2 separate regions of the Homo sapiens genome follow, and region 2 is linked to region 1. Evidence: fine-mapped expression QTL. A gene starts in region 1. The other region holds a variant in brackets. All regions are shown on one strand. Distances are from middle to middle. Region 1 holds the start of LINC02975 (long intergenic non-protein coding RNA 2975). Region 2 has its middle 38 kb from the start of LINC01503.

Region 1 (9,646 bases):
CACACAGAAGCTAAAAGACCCTTTTAAAATGCAAGTCAAATCCCATCTCTTGCCGGCTCAGAACCCCCCAGGGGCTTGCGGAGAGGAAGATGCAAAGTCCTAGCTGCTGCCCACCAGGCCTGACTGACCTACGTGGCTGACCCCATCACAGGCCCCAGGAAGGCAGGGCTGTGTCTGTCTGGTCGTGGGTGTCTCGGCACCCAGGCCATGCATCGGTACATATTTGATGGATGAATAAGTGACGGATGGGTGACTGCGGCTTCCCTGGGAGGCTCCGCCCTGCCTTGGAACCCAGCCCAGCCCAGCCTCCGCGCTTCCCTGCCTGCCTGGGCCTGCACCTGGCCAACCCCCGCAACAACCTCCACCAGGTGTGCAGCCTTGAAAACTGTTGGTTCTGGTTGCCAACTCTCCTAGCAGAGAGGGGTGCTCCAGGGACCAAGGGTCTGTGGTACCTGAGCAAATCTCTTCTAGCTGCCCTGACCACCCTCCTGTGGGTCCCTCTCCTCCATTTCCCCCACCTGGTGGGTGGGGCTGAGGGAGCAGAGACCACGCCCCCAATCCAGCCACACTCTTCTTCCAGCCAACCAAGCACCAGAAAACCAAGATTTGCACAAAGAGCTGGTGGCCTGGGAGCAGGTCCCTCAGGCTCCTCACATCTGCCCTGCAGAAGGGGCAGACATTGTCTCATTCTGGGAGTCACTCATGGTACCGAGATCAAACCCCCAGGTAACCCCCACACAGCCTTGCACAAGCCTTGCTTCTCACTTTGGACATCTACATTGCACCACTTGGGGTCGTCATTTGTAGCCAGCGAGGTGACCTGGGTGGGGGCAGAGCTGGATCTAGAACCCCCCCCCCGGTCCCTCCCCTGGGCAAGGGCCCCACATTTCCTTTTCCAGTGATGCTCCCATGCCCAGAATCTTTCTGGACTCCAGCTGCAGAATGGCCATTCATCTCGGGTTTCAATTTCCCACCTGCCCCTTTGACCTCCCCAGGCGGGGAGCGGGGGCCTTGGCTGGGCTTGTCGCTGGGGCTTGGGGGCAACTCGCCCAGTGAGAACCTGCTACGTGCCAGGTGCGCCTCTCACCCAGTCCTCACAGCAGCCCTGCATCTTCACAAATGAGAAAACAGGCCGGGCGCGGTGGCTCATGCCTGTAATCCCAGCACTTTGGGAGGCCAAGGTGGGTGGATCACCTGAGGTCAGGAGTTCCAGACCAGCCTGGCCAACATAGTGAAACCCCGTCTCTACTAAAAATACAAAAATTAGCCGGGTGTGATGGCGGGCGCCTGTAATCCCAGCTACTCAGGAGGCTGAGGCAGGAGAATCACTTGAACCCGGGAGGCAGAGGTTGCAGTGAGCCGAGATCGTGCCACTGCACTCCAGCCTGGGCGACAAAGGGAGACTCTGTGTTAAAAAATAAATAAATAAAAGAAAAGAAAACAAAGAAGAAAGGTCCCTGGTTAGGGCCACGGGGGGATGCAGCAGGGCCCATGGCCTGGGAGGGGGTGGTGGCTGGGCGGTGCCAGGATGGAGAGATACATCTGTCTTATAAGAGTGGGCAGACAGGCCCTTGTTCCAGGAGCTGAAATGAAACAGAACTGTGTATATATCTTCTCATCTATAGACTAAATTAAACTAACTCATAGAAATAGTCTGTTTTAAGTTTCTTTACTTAAAAGTATCTTACACGTTTAACACCTGCCAATACACGTATGTACGTGATATTCAGTAATGATCATTGCAAACTGGGCACGGTGGCTCATGCCTGTAATCCCGACACTTTGGGAGGCTGAGATGGGAGGATCACTTGAACCCAGGAGGTTGAGGCTGCAGTGAGCTGTGATGGTGCCACTGCCCTCCAGCTTGGGTGACAGAGCAAGATCCTGTCTGTAAATAATAATAATAATAGTAATAACTGCGACCACCTATACAAATTTCATCTATACATCCCAGGTATTGTGCACCCTCCATACAAATGTATGAAAATTCACAGAAAGCCTGTGCTTGGTCAGTGCTATCATCAGGCCTATTTGGCAGATGCAGAAACAGGCTCACAGAAGGGAAGTCACTTGCTGAAAGCCACATGGCTGGCACGGGGTGGCACTGAGACTTGCACCCAGATCTGGGCAGCATTAAAACCCCTGCCCCACCCGTGGTCCTCTCCTGTCTCCGTGTTAGCGTGGAGCCCTGAGATGTTTTAGGAGCCGGCTTTCCGATTTCCATCTGTGTTTGTGGTGATTGCCCTGATCTTTCAGGCATTCTGCCCTAGAAAGCCCCTTGGGGAGGGGGCTTCCTGTTTCACCTGCTTGGACGTGGCTTTGGAGCTAAGACCGAGAGGAGTCAAGGTGGGATTCCTCGGATGCCCTGAGGGAGTGCGATGGGATGCCTGGGGGCTGCTCCTCCAGCCTCAGACACTCCTGCCCACAGCCCCTGGCCAGGCCCTGCCTGAGCCACTGCTCTAGGCTGCAAAGGGCTGGCTCTCATTTCCTAATTCATCCTGCCAGCTGGAGCCAAGGTGGACTCTCCCCATAGACTGGGATGAGTGCCCTGGCCCAGCTGGACCTGGTGGTGGCTATGAGCCCCCTTGTGTCACCTTTTCCCTACCCAGGGCTCATCACAAGCTGCAGGGGGATGCTCTTGGGTCTCAGGGAGAGTGGCCTGAGTCCCCCGGGGCTTCTGAGTGCATCCAGGCTGCTCTGCTGACCCTGGAAGGCAACCAGGGAAGCTGTGAGGTCAGGGTAAGGGATGGGCCTCAAGAGCGGGTCATGGCCCAGCTGGGGCCTGTGTGGACAGAGGCCTCACTGTCTCCACTGCATGCAGGGAGTCTTGAGGCCAAGTGACACATTTGCCACCTGTGACATACGCCACCAGCCCGTGTGTCTGTGCCCCAGATACAGCCAGCCAGTGCAGAGTGAGGCCTGCCAGGGCCCTGTGTTGTGGGGATGTGACAGAGCTGCCAGTCCTGGTGCAGGTGAGACGTCACCGCCATCCCAGCTGGTCTCCACCTGGAGGACAATTTGGGGACCTCCTGGCACCCTCATGCGTTCCCTCCCCCTTGTTCTGCGTGACTGCCTGTTTTAATTCACATGTCCCTTTCTAAGACTTACAACTGCATTTCTCATAAAGGAAATTATTGGCACAGGGGATAATTGTGATCCAACTCTCTGGCTTCACTTAGAAATCGAGAGGGTGGTCAGTGGGGTCCCACTTACGAGAAGTTCCGGATGGCAGAACAGTACTACAGACATCATGGTCCTCAGGAGGATGCTGTCCTGCCCCAGAGAGGCCGCCGAGGGCTGGCGGAGGGGACCTGGAAGGCAGGTGGGGTTGACTGAGATGTGCCAGGTCGGGAGGGAATCCCAGGGCGGGGACCCTAGAGAAAGCGTGGCACATCTGTGGAGAGCGGACGGGCCACGCTGGGAGTGGAGGGCTGAGGGCTATGTCAGCCCGCTCCAGCAGGAGGACATGAGCCAGGCCTGTCCAGAGGGCTTCTGCAACCTCTTCTGGAAAAAGGACCAGGGAGGTACCTGTTTCATGCCCAGGAGGTCATGATAGTGCCTATCAGCGTTAAATGCCATCTGGTCCTTGCCTCGCAAGGAGCCCTGTCCCCTGGTTCACTGGCTTAGGGGTGCCCCTCAGGTCAGTGTTTCCCCAGTGTGGGGTGGGCACCCTCGGTGACCTAGGAGACAGTGACGTCAGGGATCACACAGCCTCATACCACACAAAGGTGATTCCCTTCTCTGTCTCAGCCCTCTGGTCCCCTGGAGGGGAAGCTTGCAACTCCCCAACGCTTTTCTATCAAAATGCCATCGGCAGGCAACAATAGCCAGCTAGAATTTCCTAACATTGCTTATTTTAATTGTAATTTATTTTTACTTTTACCTTCTATTTATGGCCCATGATCTTAGTTTTTTTTCCACCTAACAGTAGTCACATAAAGTTCCCTTATGGATGCATTTACCTAAGTAATAGCAGTGAATGCTTTTAAAGAAAAATAGAGAGCAAATAACAGAATAAGGTGCCACTGGAAGGGCCGGGTCAAGAGGAGGGGGTGGACGGACCTGTGGGTGGCACTGGCTTTTCGTAACTCAGGAATCAGGAAGTGTAGTTGACACTTGTTTTGTTATGTTTGCTCCAATGGAAAAGGAAGCTGTGGGTGGAGACACATCTGACGGGAGGGATTTGGATCCTGCCAGCTCGTCCCTGCAACCCCCTACTCCGGTCCCCTCAAACCTGTCCGTGGCTGGCAGCCCTGTGATACCTCGCCACATTCTGCAACAGAATCCGAGATAGAGGTAGAAGTGGGGGAGTACGTCGTGGCTGTCAGGGCAGCTTTCTGTAAAATGCTGCCTGGAGGAGCATGTGATTCCAGACCCTCCTCTCTGCAACGAAAGTGAGGTTGACACCTGCAGGTATGATTGTAACACGACTTTTAGTTCAGGTGAGCGCAGCCTTCCTCTCCTGGAGCTCTGGCTCATCCAGCCCTGAGCTCCCCAGTCCAAGGCTCTCCGGGTACCTTGGGCAGCCTCCCTAGCAGGGCGGTGGGATCGGACCAGCTGTTCCCGGCTGCTGGTCCGTTCCAAGCTGCAAGGGCCTAGGTGCGGAGCAATGACCGGCAGGCCGAGCTCCCTCCCTCCCTCTCGTTGCAGGCCTGGGGCCTCCTGGCCCACTGAGCAGAACACACAGAAGCTGGGCCCACCCCTGCCCTCCCCACAAAGGGTCACGGGAGCCACCGCCTGACTTTGAAGCCCACTGACTTGCGGCTGACAAGAGAAAAGGTATTTGGAATTAAGTGAAGGGCGGGAGGCAGGGGCGGGCTAGGCCCTGGGGTCACATAGCTGCAGGCACCTTGACTGCAGCTGCCGTTGGCCCCAGTCCCTTACTTTCTAGGGTTCTGCAGTGGGCCAGAGAAGGGACTATTATTATTATTTCATAACATTTCATCCTGGCTTATTTCTAGCCCCTCAAACGGTGTCCGTACAGGGTTGAACTGCCAAGGGCTCCCAGACCCCTGCTGCCAAGGGGCGGCTGGCTTGTGGTGGCTCTGGGGAGGCAGTGGTGCCCGTCACTGGCACTGGGGAATCTTGTCTGACTTCCCTTTTCCTCCATCTCCTCCCCAGGGCCCGGCTTTTCCTGTGCCCTTCATTTTCCTCCCCCTGTTCTGGGACTTGTGGGTGTCCCCAGAGCAAATTCTTGGGGAGCCATGCCCAGCCGGTCTAGGGGGCACTCAGGGGCTTGCATTTTGTCAGGCTCCCTCGTGGTCTGGTGTGGGTACTCTGGGGACCACATTTGGAGAACCTGGGCCCCCCAGTTGTTAACTAGCAGACGAGGGCCTGTACTTAGGGGCCATTGTCCAGCGTTTAGTGCAGAGTGACTGGAGAAATGGGAGGACCAGACCCTGTGATGGGAGTGAGGGTAGGGGGCACAAGATGGGCCGCCACCCTCCAGGATCTCCTGGTTCACACCAGTGCCTGCGAGAGGCCCCTGGGGCCTCGTGAAAGCACAGGTGGCTGGTTGCATCCCAGGGGTTCTGATTCCCAGGACTGGCCAGGCCAGAGAATCTGAATTTCTGACAAGTTCCTGGGCAAGGCCAATGCTGCTGGCCAGGAGGACCACCCTTTGAGAACCACAGGTGGACACCAGCAGCCGCAGACCCGGCTAGGACCAGGGCAGAGGCCACGCCCTCCCCATTCCCCCGGAGCTGCCTCGGCCCTTGGAGGAATGAGCAGGACCTAAACAGGAACCACGTGATGATATTGACGTGGCACCTGCATGGGAGCACTGCTGCCTGTCCACACTGAGTGCGGCTTCCAAGACCACCCGCAACACACACAGCCCTGCAAGGCGGGAGCTCACGTGCCCCTCACTTTACAGGCGAGAAAGCTGAGGCTCAGAGAGGGCAAGTGACCTGCATAAGGCCACACAGCCAGCAAGTCAGGGAACGGGTGGCCAAACCCAGACCTGCCCAGTTTCATGTTCGCGCCGTGAGGGGTCCAGCGGCTGTGGTGTCACTTCTGGTTACCCCGTCATTTAGAGGGGAAAGATGTGGAGAAATAGGAGTGTGTGTGGCAGGAAGGGACTGGGGGAGAGAAAAGGGCCCAGGAATCAGGCGTGCGTGTGGCGTTGAAAGGAGCAACAACTCAAAGTCACGCTCAAGGTCATGCTTAAGGTCATGCTCAAGGTCATGCTTAAGGTCACGAGTTCACCCCAGGAATCCCGCCCTCACTGGAGCTGAAGCAGACCCCTCCCCCAGGCTTCAGGGGTCTCCTGTGGCCAGGTGATCCCCTCCCCGTCAGCACCCCAGGGCACACAATGACACCTGATATTCCGCTAAACAGGACACTTCAGGGTGGAGGTGGGGCAGGGGGGTGGTGGGAGGCCGCAGTACTCAGCCTTTGCTCCCATGGGCCCAGCACCCCTGGGTGGACCTAGAGAGGCTCTGGGCACCCAGGTCTCAGGTCTGGCCTCAGAGCAGAGCTTTGGGCACCTCTTCCTCCACATCCACACCTGCTCCGTGCACACCTGCCCCGGGTCCTGGGTCTGGCAGCATCTTGGGCTGACTGTGGAGGGCCTTTGCTGGGCTTGGCAGGTGGGCATCAGGATGGGTAACTGCAGAGAAGAGGGAAGGGGGTGGTCTGAGGGCAGGGGGTGGCCTGAGGGTGGCCGGAGGAGTTCAGGAAGAGCACTGGAGCACGAGTCTCCTTTAGGGGACTCACCTTCTCTTTCTGTAAAGGGAAGGGACAGGGCTGGGTATCCTGAGGGGCACTGGTGGTCTTATGGGGTGGGGACATGGTGGGAAGGGGCCTGGCCCGCTCTGGTCTCCAGCCTGTGTCCCAAACCCACCTCCCCTTGGAAGAGGTCCCAGGAGTCGCCAGCACCTGGTTCTGGCTGGGCTGAGAGAGGCTGTGTCTGCTGCACCTGGAGTTGCAGGGCCAGCCACGGTCTGTGCACGTGGACCCCTTGAAGCGCAGAGGCTGACGCATGGCGAGTGCTCGTTAAACATCACCTGCATGTGATTATTAGTAATAAAATGTCTTAGAAGCTGGAGGGACTGAGAAGGGCCTTCTAAGCATGACAGACGTCTGTCTAGGTTGGGGTCCTTTTCATCAGGAGGGACCTGGGAGCCAGGTACCCTCTGCTCACAGGTAGTAATGCAAGAGGCCTTGTATTTTCTCTTCCTTTCCAGGCACTGAGGGCTCGCCACAACCCCCTGTGTATTTATCTTACAGAATGTGCCCCTGTGATCATGTGAAAGCATCAGCCAGGGGTCCAAGAACTTCCCTCTGGAGCCTCACACTCCCAGCGTGGCACCCAGCAGGGAACAGATTCTCTCCAAACCTTTGTGAATGAATGAAGGATGACGTCACTAGAATCCATCCCTGTTTTATTTTTTATTTTTATTTTTTGAGACAGAGTCTCGCTCTGTTGTTGCCCAGGCTGGAGTGCGGTGGCACAATCTCAGCTCACTACAACCTCCGCCTCCCCGGTTCAAGTGATTCTCCTGCCTCAACCTCCTGAGTAGCTGGGATTACAGGCACCCATCACCACGCCTGGCTAATTTTTGTGTGTGTTTAGTACAGACGGGGTTTCACCACGTTGGCCAGACTGGTCTTGAACTCCTGACCTCAGGTGATCCGCCTGCCTCGGCCTCCCAAAGTGTTGGGATTACAGGCGTGAGCCACCACGCCCATGCCCATCCCCATTTTATAGACAAGGATACCAAGGCTCAGAGAGGGGAAGCCACTTGCCAAGGACGCACAGGAGGACACCAGTGAGCAGGACCTCTGGTCTGTCTGGGAGGCCACTGGGCCTCTTCCCAGAGTCTCTGCTTGGTGAGCCAGGATTTTACACCCGCCTTGGGCCCAGTGGGCTGAGAGGACATGGGCTGGGGTGTCGGAAGCTGCAGAGCTGATCCCTCCTGCTTGGCTGGAGGCTTGCAGACCCGGCAGGCAGGCTCGGGAGGCAGCGGGCGACTTGAAAATGCACTCCCTACCACAGGCTCAAGAGTGACGGCGCCTGTCAGGGACCGGGAGGCAGGGCCTGTCTTTTCCTGCTGTTTTATTGCCTTCAAAGTCTGGACCAAGTGGTTTCTGGATGGAGTCACGGTAACCTCACGTCTATTCAAGCAATTCGTTCATTGTTTCATTTAGTAAAATACCCACAAAACAAGGAAGAACACCTTGGCGGTGCCTCTGATCCCCCCATTTGTCTGCAAATCGGAAAAGCATGATTCCATCGATCTCCTGTTTATTGAGCGCCTACTACATGCTAGGTCGGATGGTCTAGTTCAACCCCTCGCAACGCCACAGCTGCTGTCTGTTTCGTATCTTGTATTTTTCGCTTGACAGTTTATCATGTGCATTTTCTCGGGTACCAAAGGCCCTTGTAAGAGATGGTGTCTGGAGAATGGGTATCTCAGGGGCCTACCACCTGGCTTACCTCCTCCCAAATCAGGGTTCCTCTGCACCACCTCCTCTCTGTCCAGCTCCTCCTTCAGGGCCTGGCTCAATTCTACCTCCTCCACAAAGCCCTCCATTCCCTCCCCTCCTGGTCAGTGTTGTCTCTTTTGCAGCCACTAGCTCTCTGCCTTGCCTCACCCGGGTCTCCTATCCCTCTCCTTCTCTCTCATGGAGTGATGCCTTTTTTCTTCCTCTACACACATCAGGTCTGAGCTCAAAGTCACCTTGTCAAAGGCCCTCCCAGGACCACCCTGTGTGATTATCCTGTGGGCTTGTTCCTGTGTTTGTCCCTGAGCCCACAGGGTCTGGTGGTTCAGTAGAAGGACTCCTGCAGAAGGTGCTGGATAAACACTGGAAGATCTAGAAATAAAAATAAAAGAAAGACTGGGCGCGGTGGCTCAGGCCTGTAATCCCAACACTTTGGGAGGCCGAGGTGGGCGGATCCCCTGAGGTCAGGAGTTCGAGACTAACCTGGCCAACATGGCGAAACCCCATCTCTACTAAAAATACAAAAATTAGCCAGGCATGGTGGCATGTGCCTGTAATCCCAGCTACTCAGGAGGCTGAGGCAGGAGAATCGCTTGAACCCGGGAGGCAGAGGTTGTAGTGAGCTGAGATCGCGCCACCGCACTCTAGCCTGGGCGAAAGAGTGAGACTGTATCCCAAAAATAATAAAATAAAATAAAATAAAATAAAATAAAATAAAATAAAATAAAATAAAATAAAATAAAGCACACTCAGTTAAATATGAATGTCAGATAAGTACCAAATAACTTGTGAGTATAAATGTATCCCAAATATGGAATGGAATACACATAGTAAACATTTTTTTTTATTATCTCAAATTCAAATGACACTCAGCATCTTGAATTTAATCTGACAACTCCACCTCCTCCTACCCTCTTTGCCCCTTGTCAGGCAAGCTCAATAGCTAGGCCGAGAGCTGCTGAGGGCGGGGACCTTGTCTGTCTAGGCCACTGCTGTATGCGTGCCTGGCCCTCAGCAGGGAACCTGACATGAAGCACACGCTGGATAAATAAATACCTGTTGCTGGAGCGAGTGATGGGTTCCCAGCCCTCACTGGGGAATCGAGGGGACTCCACCTCAGCCCAGCCAGATGGAATCGTCGGGAACAGAGTGCACCTTAATTTCTGCGAAGACCAATGCAAATTAGAAGAAGACTGAG
Region 2 (11,180 bases), 92 kb after region 1:
GTTGCGCCACTGTACTCCAGCCTGGGCGACAGAGCGAGACTCTGTCTCAAAATAAATAAATAAATAAATAATAACATAAAATTTAAAAAGTACTGGAAGCATTCTTAGCAATGTCTTGAACGTGGCAAGGATGCTTTATATATGCTCTATAATGCTATATTGCTGTGAAAGTTCTGGACAATGCAATAAGACAAGAAACACAAATTAAAGGACAGCCACTAAAAAGGAGACAAATTATCCTTACTTGTGGATATTATAATTGTCCACTTGAAAATCCAAGGGAAGCAAATGAAAAACTATTAAATAATGAAAGCATTCTACCAAAGTAGCCAGTTGTAAAATCAACATACAAAACACCCACAGCTTTCCCCTCTCCCTCCCTCCTCTTTTTTGCTATCAGATTGATTGTGTTTCTTTATTTCTCACCTTTTCCCTTTATTGGTTTGAAAGTTACACATTCCTTTTATGCCTTTTAGAGATTATCTTTAGGTTTTTATCATGCATAAAATTTTTTAATAATCTTCAGCTGGGCACAGTGGCTCACACCTGTAATCCCAGCACTTTGGGAGGCCTAGGCAGGCAGATCGCCAGAGGTCAGGAGTTGAAGACCAGCCTGACAAACATGGAGCAACCCCATCTCTACTAAAAACACAAAAAATTAGCCGGGCATGGTGGTGGATGCCTGTAATCCCAGCTACTCAGGAGCCTGAGGCAGAAGAATCGCTTGAGCCTGGGAGGTGGAGGTTGCAGTGAGTCGAGATCATACCATTGCACTCCAACTTGGGCAACCAGAGCAAAACTCCGTCTAAAAAAAAAAAAATTGACTTATAATCAAAATCACTATTTTTCACCCTCCTGCTAGATAGTACAAGATCTTGGAGTGATTTGACTCCAGTGACACCTTCCAAACACTATATTATGATTGCCTAATATTTAGTTCCACCTTTTCTTTATTTTTTATTTTTTTAGAAACAGGGCCTTGCTATGTTGCCCAGGCTGGAGTGCAATAGCTATTCATAGGCTGCACCCCAATACTGATTAGCACAGGAATTTTTACCTGCTCTGTTTCCAACCTGGGCCAGTTCACCCCTCTTTGGGTAACCTGGTGGCCTCCTGGCAGGTCGTCATATTGATGCAGAGCTTAGCACCAGCACCCAACTGGCATAGTCAACTTCAGCCCAGAGCTCCTGGCCTCAAATGATCCTCCTGCTCCGCCTCCTGAGGAGCTGGGACTACAGGCATGTGCTACTGTGCCCGGCAGTTCCACCTTGTTTTAATCCACCACTGGTAATTATGATTGTTGATTTTACGGCCAGCTCTTATTTAGATTTTACCCATGTTTCCATATCTCCATTCATTGCTTCTTGCAGAATGTGCTTGGTACAGGGCTTGATTCCCTTCTTCCTTAGGTCATCTTTTACTAGCTCTTTCAGCAAAGAGCTGTGAGTGGTAAAGTTCCTCAGTCTTTGTCTGAAATGTCTTTATTTTGCCCTTGCCCTTGAAAGACAGTTGAGCTGAAAGACAGTTTTGGTTGACAAATATTTTCCTTCGTCCTCTTGAAGAGATGATAATTACATTTTTGTCCTCTGTCATTGCTGATGGGCTTCGCTGTTTCTTTGTGGGCTTCGTGCCAGTGGTGAAGGCATGTGTCCTGGACTCCTGAGCTGCCTGGGTCCAAGTCCTGGCCCTGCCATTCATCATTTTGTGAATTTGTGCCTGGTTATCTACAGTCACAATTCTGCAATTTGGATTGGGCTCAGCTGGGCAGCTCTTCTGCTAGTCTTGCCTGGGGTCTTTCACATGGCTGCTCTCACCTGCGGTTTGAATGATATATTCGTTTGCTAGGGCTGCCTTAACAAGATACCACAGGCTGGGTGGGTTAAAAACAGAAAGCTGCTGGGCACGGTGGCTCACACCCGTAATCCCAGCACTTTGGGAGGCTGAGGCAAGAAGACCGCTTGAGCCCAGGAGTTTGAGACCAGCCTGGGCAACATGGTGAAACCCAGTCTCTATAAAAATACAAAATAAAACCTAGCCAGGAGTGGGGGCATGCACCTGTGGTCCCAGCTACTCAAGAGGCTGAGGTGGGAGAATCACTTGAGCCCCAGGAGGTGGAGGTTGCCATGAGCCGTGATCGTACCACTGCACTGCAGTCTGGGCGATAGAGCAAGACTCTGTCTCAATATAAATAAAATAAATAAATAAATAAATAAATAACAGAAAGGTATTTTCTCACAATTCTAGACGATAGAAGTCCCAGGTCAAGATATTGGCACAGTTGGTTTCTTCTCTCCTTGGCTTACAGATGCCCCTTTCTTTCAGCATCTGCACACAGTGCTTGCCTGTGTGCTAATCTCTCTTTTTTTTTTTTTTTTTGAGATGGAGTCTTGCTCTGTTGCCCAGGCTGGAGTGCAGTGGTGCCATCTCGGCTCACTGCAAGCTCTGCCTCCCGGGTTTACACCATTCTCCTGCCTCAGCCTCCCAAGTAGCTGGGACTACAGGCACCCGCCACCACGCCCAGCTAATTTTTTGTATTTTTTAGTAGAGACGGGGTTTCACCGTGTTAGCCAGGATGGTCTCGATCTGACCTTGTCCTCGTGATTCAACCGCCTCTGTCTCCCAAAGTGCTGGGATTACAGGAGTGAGCCACTGCACCTGGCCCTAATATTAGTCACATTAGCTTAGGGCCCACCTATATGACCTCGTTTTACCTTAATTATGTCTTTAAAAGCCCTCTATCGGCCGGGCATGGTGGCTCACGCCTGTAATCCCAGCACTTCGGGAGACCAAGGCGGGTGGATCACAAGGTCAGGAGATTGAGACCATCCTGGCTAATACGGTGAAACTCCATCTCTACCAAAAATACAAAAAAATAGCCAGGCATGGTGGCACGCGTCTGTAATACCAGCTACTTGGGAGGCTGAGGCAGGAGAATCACTTGAACCTGGGAGGCAGAGGTTGCAGTGAGCCGAGATCACGCCACTGCACTCCAGCCTGGGCGACAGAGCGAGACTCCGTCTCAAAAAAAAAAAAAAAAAAAAAAGGCCCTCGATCCTAATAAAATCACATTCTGAAGTAGTGGGGTTAGGACTTCAACATGTGAATTTGTGGCAAGGCAGGGGGGCAGGAAATGATGTAATTCAGCCCATAACACCTGGGGTGGAGGGTTCTAGATGAACTCACTGCTATGCCTGGCAGGTGGTGTTGGCCATCTAATGGGTGGTTCCCTTCCAACAGAATCTACACTAGGCTTCTTTTTATTTTTTATTTTTTGAGATAGGGTCTCACTCTGTTGCCCAGGCTGGAGTGTGGTGGCACAATCACAGTTCACTGCAACCTTTGCCTCTAGGGCTCAAGTGATTCTCCCGCCTCAGCCTCCCAAGTAGCTGGGACCACAGGTGTATGCCACCAGGTTTGACTGATTATTTTATTTTATTTTTAGTAGAGACGATGTCTTGCCACGTTGCCCAGGCTGGTCTTGAACTCCTGGACTCAAGCAATCCACCTGCCTTGACCTCCCAAAGTGCTTGGATTACAAGTGTGAGCCACTGTGCCCTGCCTACACTGGGCTTCTTGTCGTGTAATTGTTTGTTCTAAGATAGCAAAGGTAGAAGTCTTGCAGCTTCTTAAGGCCTGGCTTTGAAAGAGGCATAACATCATCTCTGCTACCCTCCATTGGTGAGATCTCAAGGCCATTCCAGATTCAAAAGGGGTTGAAAAGGACTCAGCTTCTCACTCTGTGGCAAGAGTATCCTCTTAAGGGGAGGAGTAGCAAAGTCATAGGGAAGTGTGATTTTTGTTTTGTTTTGTTTTTGTTTTTGAGACAGAATCTTGCTTTGTCGCCTAGGCTGGAGTGCAGTGGTGCGACCTTGGCTCACTGCAATCTCCGCCTCCCGGGTTCAAGTGATTCTCCTGCCTCAGCCTCCCAAGTAGCTGGGACTACAGGCACCCACAACCATGCCCAGCTAATTTTTGTATTTTTAGTACAGATGGGGTTTCACCAAATTGGCCAAGCTGGTCTCAAACTCCTGACCTTGTGATCCGCCCACCTCGGCCTCCCAAAATGCTGGGATTACAGGCATGAGCCATTGCGCCTGGCCGATTTTTTTTTTTTCTTTTTCAGACAGGATCTCATTCTGTTGGCTCAGGCTAGAGTGTAGTGGTGCAATACAGATCCCTACAGCCTCGACCTTCTGGGCTCAAGCAATCCTCCCACTTCAGCCTCCCAAGTAGCTGGGACCACAGGCGTATGTCACCACACCCTGCTAATTTTTGTACTTTCTGTAGAAATGGGGTTTCATCATGTTGCCTAGGCTGGTCTCGAACTCCTGAGCTCAAGCAGTCTGCCTGCCTCGGCCGCACAAAGCGTTGGGATTACAGGTATGAGCTACCACGCCTGGCCAAATTCTTCAGGGGTCATTATTGTAACAAAAATTAAGTAGCATTAACTAATAAAGATTACTTAAGCTTTTTGTCGCTTGATTTTTTCATCTTTAAAATGTGGATAATAACATTAATAGTTGGCTGGGTGCGGTGGCTTAAGCCTGTAATCCCAGCACTATGGGAGGCTGAAGCAGGTGGATCACTTGAGGTCAGGAGTTCAAGACCAGCCTGGCCAACATGGCGAAACCCTATCTCTACAAAAAATACAAAAACTAGCCGGGCCTGGTGGTGCGTGCCACCAGTGGTCCCAGCTACTTGGGAGGAGGTGGAAGGATCACCTGAACCTGGGTGGTCAAGGCTGTGGTGAGCTGTGATCATGCCACTGCACTCCAGCCTGGGTGATAGAGTGAGACCCTGTCTCAATAAATAAAATAAAATAAAAATAACACTAATAGTGTTGTTTTGAGGACTTAAAGAGTCAATGTACTCAGAACACCATTATATGTCTTTATTATGGATGCTGTTAGATAATCTCTTCTTCTTTTCTGGTTTAAGTCATTTTCTTTGTCTTTAGGATTACATATTTGGTATAGATAATTGGGTTTGGTTCACTATTATTTATCCTTCTTGTGGTTGATGCATTTTTTTTTTTTTTTGCGCCACTGCTCTTGGCTGACTTTTTAATTTTTTGTAGAGACGAGGTCTCACTATGTTGCCAGGACTGGTCTCAAACTCTTGGGCTCAAGCTATCTTCCCACCTCATCCTCCCAAAGTATTGGGATTACAGGTGTGAGCCACCGTGCCCAGCCTGATGCACTTCTTAAATTTGAGGAATTGTGTCTTTCATCAATTCTGGAATATTCTCAGACATTATCATGCTGAATATGATCTCTTTTCCATCCTCCTTATAATCTATCTCTTTCCAGGTCTTCTCTAAGCCATATGTTGGACTCTTTTATTCTTTTCAATGTGTTTCTATTTTTATTATTTATCTCTTTATCTTTGTTTCTTTAAAAAAATTTTTTTAGAGGCAGCATCTCACTCTGTTGCCCAGGTGGGAGTGCAGTGGTGTGATCACAGCTCACTGTAACCTTGAACTCCTGGGCTCAAGCAATCCTCCTGCCTCAAGCCTCCCCAGTAGCTAGGACTAAAGGCATGTGCCACCACACCCAGCTAATTTTTAAAATTTTTTTGTAGAGACAGGGAGTCTTGCTATGTTGCCCAGGTTGGTCTCAAATTCCTGGTCTCAAGTGATCCTCCTGCCTTGACTTCCCAAAGTGCTGGTATTATAGGCATGAGTCACTCCATCTGGCCCTCTTTATCTTTGTGGGCTACATTCTGGGTAATTTCCTCAGTTCTGTCTTTCAGTTCATGAACACTTCTTCAGCTGCGTCTTATCTGCTATTTAACCAAGGCATTGAAATTTATTTTCAGTGGCTACGGTTTTCCTTTCAAGAAGATCTTTGTTTTTCCTTCAACTTTGCCTCTTATTTTTGTTTGTGTTGTTTTCTTTTCTTTTGTTTTCTATTTTTGAGACAAGGTCTGGCTCTATCACCCAGGCTAGAGTGCAGTGGCGTGATCTCGGGTCACTGCAACCTCTGCCTCTCAGGCTCAAGCCATCCTCCCAACTCAGACCCCTGAGTGGCCGCTGGGACTACAGGCGCTCACCACCATGCCTGGCTAATTTTTATACTTTTCATAGAGACAGGGTTTCGTCATGTTGGCCAGGCTGGTCTTGAACTCCTGACCTCAAATGATTCGCCTGCCTTGGCCTCCCAAAGTGCTGGAATTATAGGCGTGAGCCACTAGGGCTGGCTGCCTCTTTTTTCATGGTGTCTTTTCATTTTCTTATTTTTTTTCTTTTAATAATTTAAAGCACACTTCTTTTGTAGTCTCTTTCGGAGTGTGCTCTTATCCCAATTTCTTGGTGGTCTAATCCTCTTCTTGTTTTGTCTGCTGACACTCCCTGTTGAGGATCAGTTCATTTTGCGGTTTGCATTTTTAGCTGTGAGCTCCTGTTCAGCGAGGATCTTGCTTTTTGTTGGGTTCTCAGCTACAGAATGGCTTCTTGCTCCAGTTGCCTCCTCCCAAACTCCAGTACTGGGTGATCTCCCATTTTTTCTTTCAAGATCAATTTTTTTTTGTTGTTGTTGTTAAATTTTGTCCATATTCCTCAGCAGGAGCAGTGTCAACATTAGCTCAGTCTGCTAGGTTAGGTTAGTCAAATTTAATAGATGATAAAGACATCATTTAAAATCAGTAGGGAAAAGATGAGCTATTTATTAAATGGTATTAAGACAACTGTTCAATATCTGGGGGCGGAGGGAGGCTGTTAGCCTTAACATACACCATAACTAAAATAAATTGCAGACAAAACGAAAACTTAAATATAAAAGTGGAACTATAAAAGTGCTAGATGAAAAGAATGTGATGGGAAAGGCCTGTTTAATTATTCAACGGATGGTAAAATCCTCCTGAAGCTTTGCTACGAAAAAGTTTGAAAGTTATGTACATGGAAGAACTACGAAAAAAAGCCCTAAAAAGTAAGTGACCAATTAAGAAGATATTTACAAGAGATGATAAAGGCTCAATATCCTGCATCTACAAAGAGCTCTCACATATCCATTAGAAGACAGTGAATACCTAATAGGGACATATGCAAAGGACATGAATTAGTAATTCACAAAATAAGAAATAAAAAAAGCCAACAAGCATATGAGAGTAGGTTCATCTTCACTAACAACAAAAGAAATACATGTTAAAACAAGTTATCCTTTTACCCTATCAAATTGGCCAAAAATTTCAAAAAGATTAAAATATCCTGTGTGGTGAAGGAAAAGGGGTTCTACAGAATCCCTCTTCCCTTGGTCTCAAACTCCTGACCTCAAGCAATCCTCCCATCTTGGCCTCCCAAAGTGCTGGGATTATAAGCAGGAGCCACCGCGCCTGCTGTCTTATTTGGAAAAAGGTACATTTTGTCAATGTAATTAAGGTAAGAATTATTTATTTATTTATTTATTTTGAGATGGAGTTTTGCTCTTTTTGCCCAGGCTGGAGTGCAATGGCGCGATCTCGGCTCACTGCAACCTTCACCTCCTGGGCTTAAATGATTCTCGTGCCTCAGCCTCCTGAGTAGCTGGGACTATAGGCGTGCGCCACCACATCCGGCTAATTTTTTGTACTTTTAGTAGAGATGGAGTTTCACCATGTTGGCTAGGCTGATCTCAAACTCCTGACCTCAGGTGATCCACCCGCCTCAGCCTCCCCAAGTGCTGGGATTATAGGCGTGAGCCACCACTCCCAGCCAGGATTTTTTTTTTTTTTTTTTGAGTCAGGTTCTCACTCTGTCATCCAGGCTGGAGTGCAGTGATACAATCATAG[C/T]TCACTGCAGCCTCAAACTCCAGGACCAAAGCAATCCTCCCACTTCAGCCTCCTGAGTAGCTGGGAAAGCAGGTGTGTGCCACTATGTCCAGCTAATTTTTCTATTTTTTGTAGAGATGGGGGGTGTCACTGTGTTGTCCAGGCTGTTCTCAAACTCCTGAGCTCTAGCAATCCTCCCACCTCTGCCTCTCAAAGTGCTGGGATTACAGGTGTCAGCCACCTTGCCTGGCCAAGTTAAAGATCTTGAAATGAGGAGGTTATCCTGGAATAAGACACTTGGGGAGAAGACAGACAGACAGATAGAGGAGGAGACTGGAGTGATGAGTCCACCAGTCAGGAATACCAGCCCTGAGAAAAGCTGGAAAATGCAAAGAAGCATTCTTCCCTCTAATCTTGGGAGGGAATGCAGCCTTGATGACAGCTCGATGTTGGGCTTTGAGCCTCCAGAGCTGTGAGAGAATGAATTTCTGTTGTTTTAAGCCATCGAGTGCGTGGTCATTTGTCTGACAGCCCTAGGAAGCCAATACAGAGTGTCATCGGGACATTTTGGAGGGTAATTTGGCAGAATGTAGCACAGGCCCTAAAACGTGCATCTCTTTCCTTCTAGAAATTTCTCAAGATTAATAATTGAGAATTTGTCAAAGATCCCTTAGCAAGGACATTCACCGCAGCCTTCTTCTTTAAAGGAAGTTGAGTAAACAACCTATATGTTCAATAATAGGATGGATTGAATAAACAATTGTTTAGCTGTATAATGATAAAGATTAAAAATAATCATAGCCACAGCCAATAGTGTGCTTTCGACGGACTCCACATGAAAGGAGTGCTTCCTGCCCGTTTTCTTATGTAATTCTCACCACAATGCTATAACGCAGGCTTTAGTAACCCCATCTCCCAGAAGAGGACCACACTGAGGTCAGAGGGTGTAGCCACCAGTCCAAGGTCACATAGCAAGGGGCCAAGATTCTGACCCTAACCCTTGTGCTATGCCTTTACCACCCAACAAGACAGATCATGGTGCAGCCTTCAGATACCAAGATGCTGACGACAGGTCTTTACACAGAAGGATGTCGGTGGCATAGTGTTGGGTGGAAAAAGCAGTCGAGCACGTACCATTTTTGCAAAAATAAAAAGCACATTCAGTGTGCAGAGAAAAAAAGCCTGGAAGGATTTACTGTGCACGTTAGCAGGGAGGTTACCTCTGGGGATGGATTCAGTGATTTTTATTTTCTACAATGAGCACATACAGCTCTTGTCGTCAGGGCAAAATATTAAAAGACAAAACAGCGCTGGCGGTTGGACTGACCACGCCTGCCTCTGAGGTGGTTCTGGGAGGTGAGAAAGAGCCCGCTGCAGCCCAGCCGGCCTGGACCCCGGCGTCTGGCTCTCCCCTGCCCTTGGTCTTCTCCCCAGCACTGTCCGTACCTTCCCTGCACCTGTGCTTCTGCGGGCATCGATTTTTCCATCCTTCAGAGAAGCGCCTGAGGAAAAGGAAAGAGCATCTTCGGATCAATGAACACAGCCCTGCAGCCAGGGGTGGGGGTGGCCGCGGGCCGCGCCTGCTTGTCACTGCCGGGTCCAGGATTTGAGGGGGGCTCAGCGGGGGAAGGCGAGACTGGCTGGGCTGCCCAGGGCGGCGAGTGTGTGTGTGTGTTGGGGGGCGTGGGGAGTGGTGGAGGGTAGGTGTGGTGGGGGTCTATGTGAGGTGTGGAGTCGGGGGGTTACATACACGTGTGTGGTGGGAGATGGGTGAGCATCCAGGGTTGCATCAGGGAGGGGGTGTCGTGGGCTTCCTCCGAGGGGCTGCTCTTTGCCTAGAGGAGCAAGGAGCGGTGCAACCTCCTCTGTGAAACACAGTCTCCCACTAACTCAGTTCACAGCTCTGTGAGGAGGGGCTGGTACACACCCATTGCCCAGATGGGGAAACCGAGGGCTGCGTGTGTTCGTGGTGGGGGCGGGGAAGAGGTGGATGGAGAGGGCAAAACGGCATTGTTTGTGTCAACTGCAGAACAGAATCTTGTATTCAAGAGGCAGTCTCGTATTTGAAAGGCACTCACCTGTTCTGGGCACTGGGAGATGAGTGGGTGGGGACAGAGAGGGGGCAGCCGAGGCTCCCTCAGGAGCTCACAGTGGGTGCAGGGGGTGGAAAAGGAATGCTCCTGGGCCTATCGGGTCAGTAAACCCAGACTCTACATTTGCTAGGCCTGTCTGAGCCTCACCCCAGCCTCTTCTTTCCTGGCCAGATCCCTTCCCGACATGTCATGTGCCCAAACCCTGGACCCCTCACTCCTGCTCATTCCGGCAGCCCCCACAGATGGCTCTCAGGCCCCAGAGCTCTCTGTGCTTCTGTTCCAGGGCAACAGGAACAAATGCCCTACGAGAGCTTAATTCCCTGCTTACCGTCTGCTCCCCTCCCTGCCCCCGGTCTAGTCTATGAGCTCCTCTGGGGCAATCGGGCTGGGACTGTGGGGCCCTCCTGGCTCAGTCTGCATTGCCCGTTGCCTGGCCTGGCACCAAAAATGGCTCAACATACATTTATTGCATGAATGAATGAACCATGATCATTGCTAAGGAAAGAAATGTGCAGATGGCCTGCTTTGGGGTTCAGTGTGCGTGTACTGCGTTGGTGTCCACGTGCACGTGCAGCATGTGTGTACCCCTAGGCACACACGTGGTGTGTTGCATTCATGTGAATCCATGTGTGTGTGTTTGTGTGTGCACGCACATGCATACAGTGCTTGCTTGTGTGTGCAGGTGTGCGTTCACATGTCCATGCCAAGGTGCATGCATTTTTATATGCCAGCGTGTGCATGTATATGTTTACCTGTGCACACTCTGTGTGCAAGGAGTTAACATATCTTTCTCTCACGTTTTGCTCTCCCCCTGACCTGCATCCTGCAGCCTACCTTTCTGCCTTGTATTTTTTGAGACAGGGTCTCACTCTGTCATGCAGGCTGAGAGCAGTGACACGATCACGGCTCACTGCAACCTCAACCTCCTGGGCTCAAGCCATGCTCCTGCCTCAGCCTCCCAAGTAGCTAGGACCACAGCTGTGCGCCATCACATCCAGTTAATTTTTTTCTTTATTTTTTTTAATTAACTACTTTATCACAAACAAATACTTTGCTTTTTTTGGCGGGGGCGGGGGGCGGCGGGGAGAAGGATATCATTAGTTACAGCATCTGACTTTGCCCTGTACATGGTCCAGAAAATGCAGGTTGCATCCAGCTTGCAGGGCATCCGAGGGCACTCATCTTTCTTCCATTTGTTTTCATCCAGATCAAAAGCAAGAATGGAATCCCTGAGATAACTATTATAACAAAGGCCTCCAAGAACTATTATTTTTCTGTGCAGTGCAGTCACACCATGGCTACTCCTGCCAATTGGCATGGATGCCAAGATGGTCCACTGATCAG

What was found. PIP is the estimated chance that this variant, and not a neighbour inherited with it, causes the effect.
Region 2: its variant is fine-mapped to the expression of LINC02975 in spleen (GTEx, PIP above 0.99).

Annotation. Positions count from the first base shown.
Region 1 is chr9:129,278,280-129,287,925 of GRCh38, forward strand. It overlaps LINC02975 (long intergenic non-protein coding RNA 2975), which reads left to right and starts at 4,137. Exons shown (of 3, transcript NR_121587.1): 1 at 4,137-4,413; 2 at 4,651-4,779; 3 at 7,231-7,440. RefSeq lists enhancers at 1-569, 6,427-7,400, 7,401-8,374, 9,316-9,646.
Region 2 is chr9:129,369,203-129,380,382 of GRCh38, forward strand. It overlaps the pseudogene RN7SL159P. Among named protein-coding and RNA genes, the nearest start is that of LINC01503, 38 kb to the left of the region's middle. The variant C/T (reference allele first, on the strand shown) is at 7,765.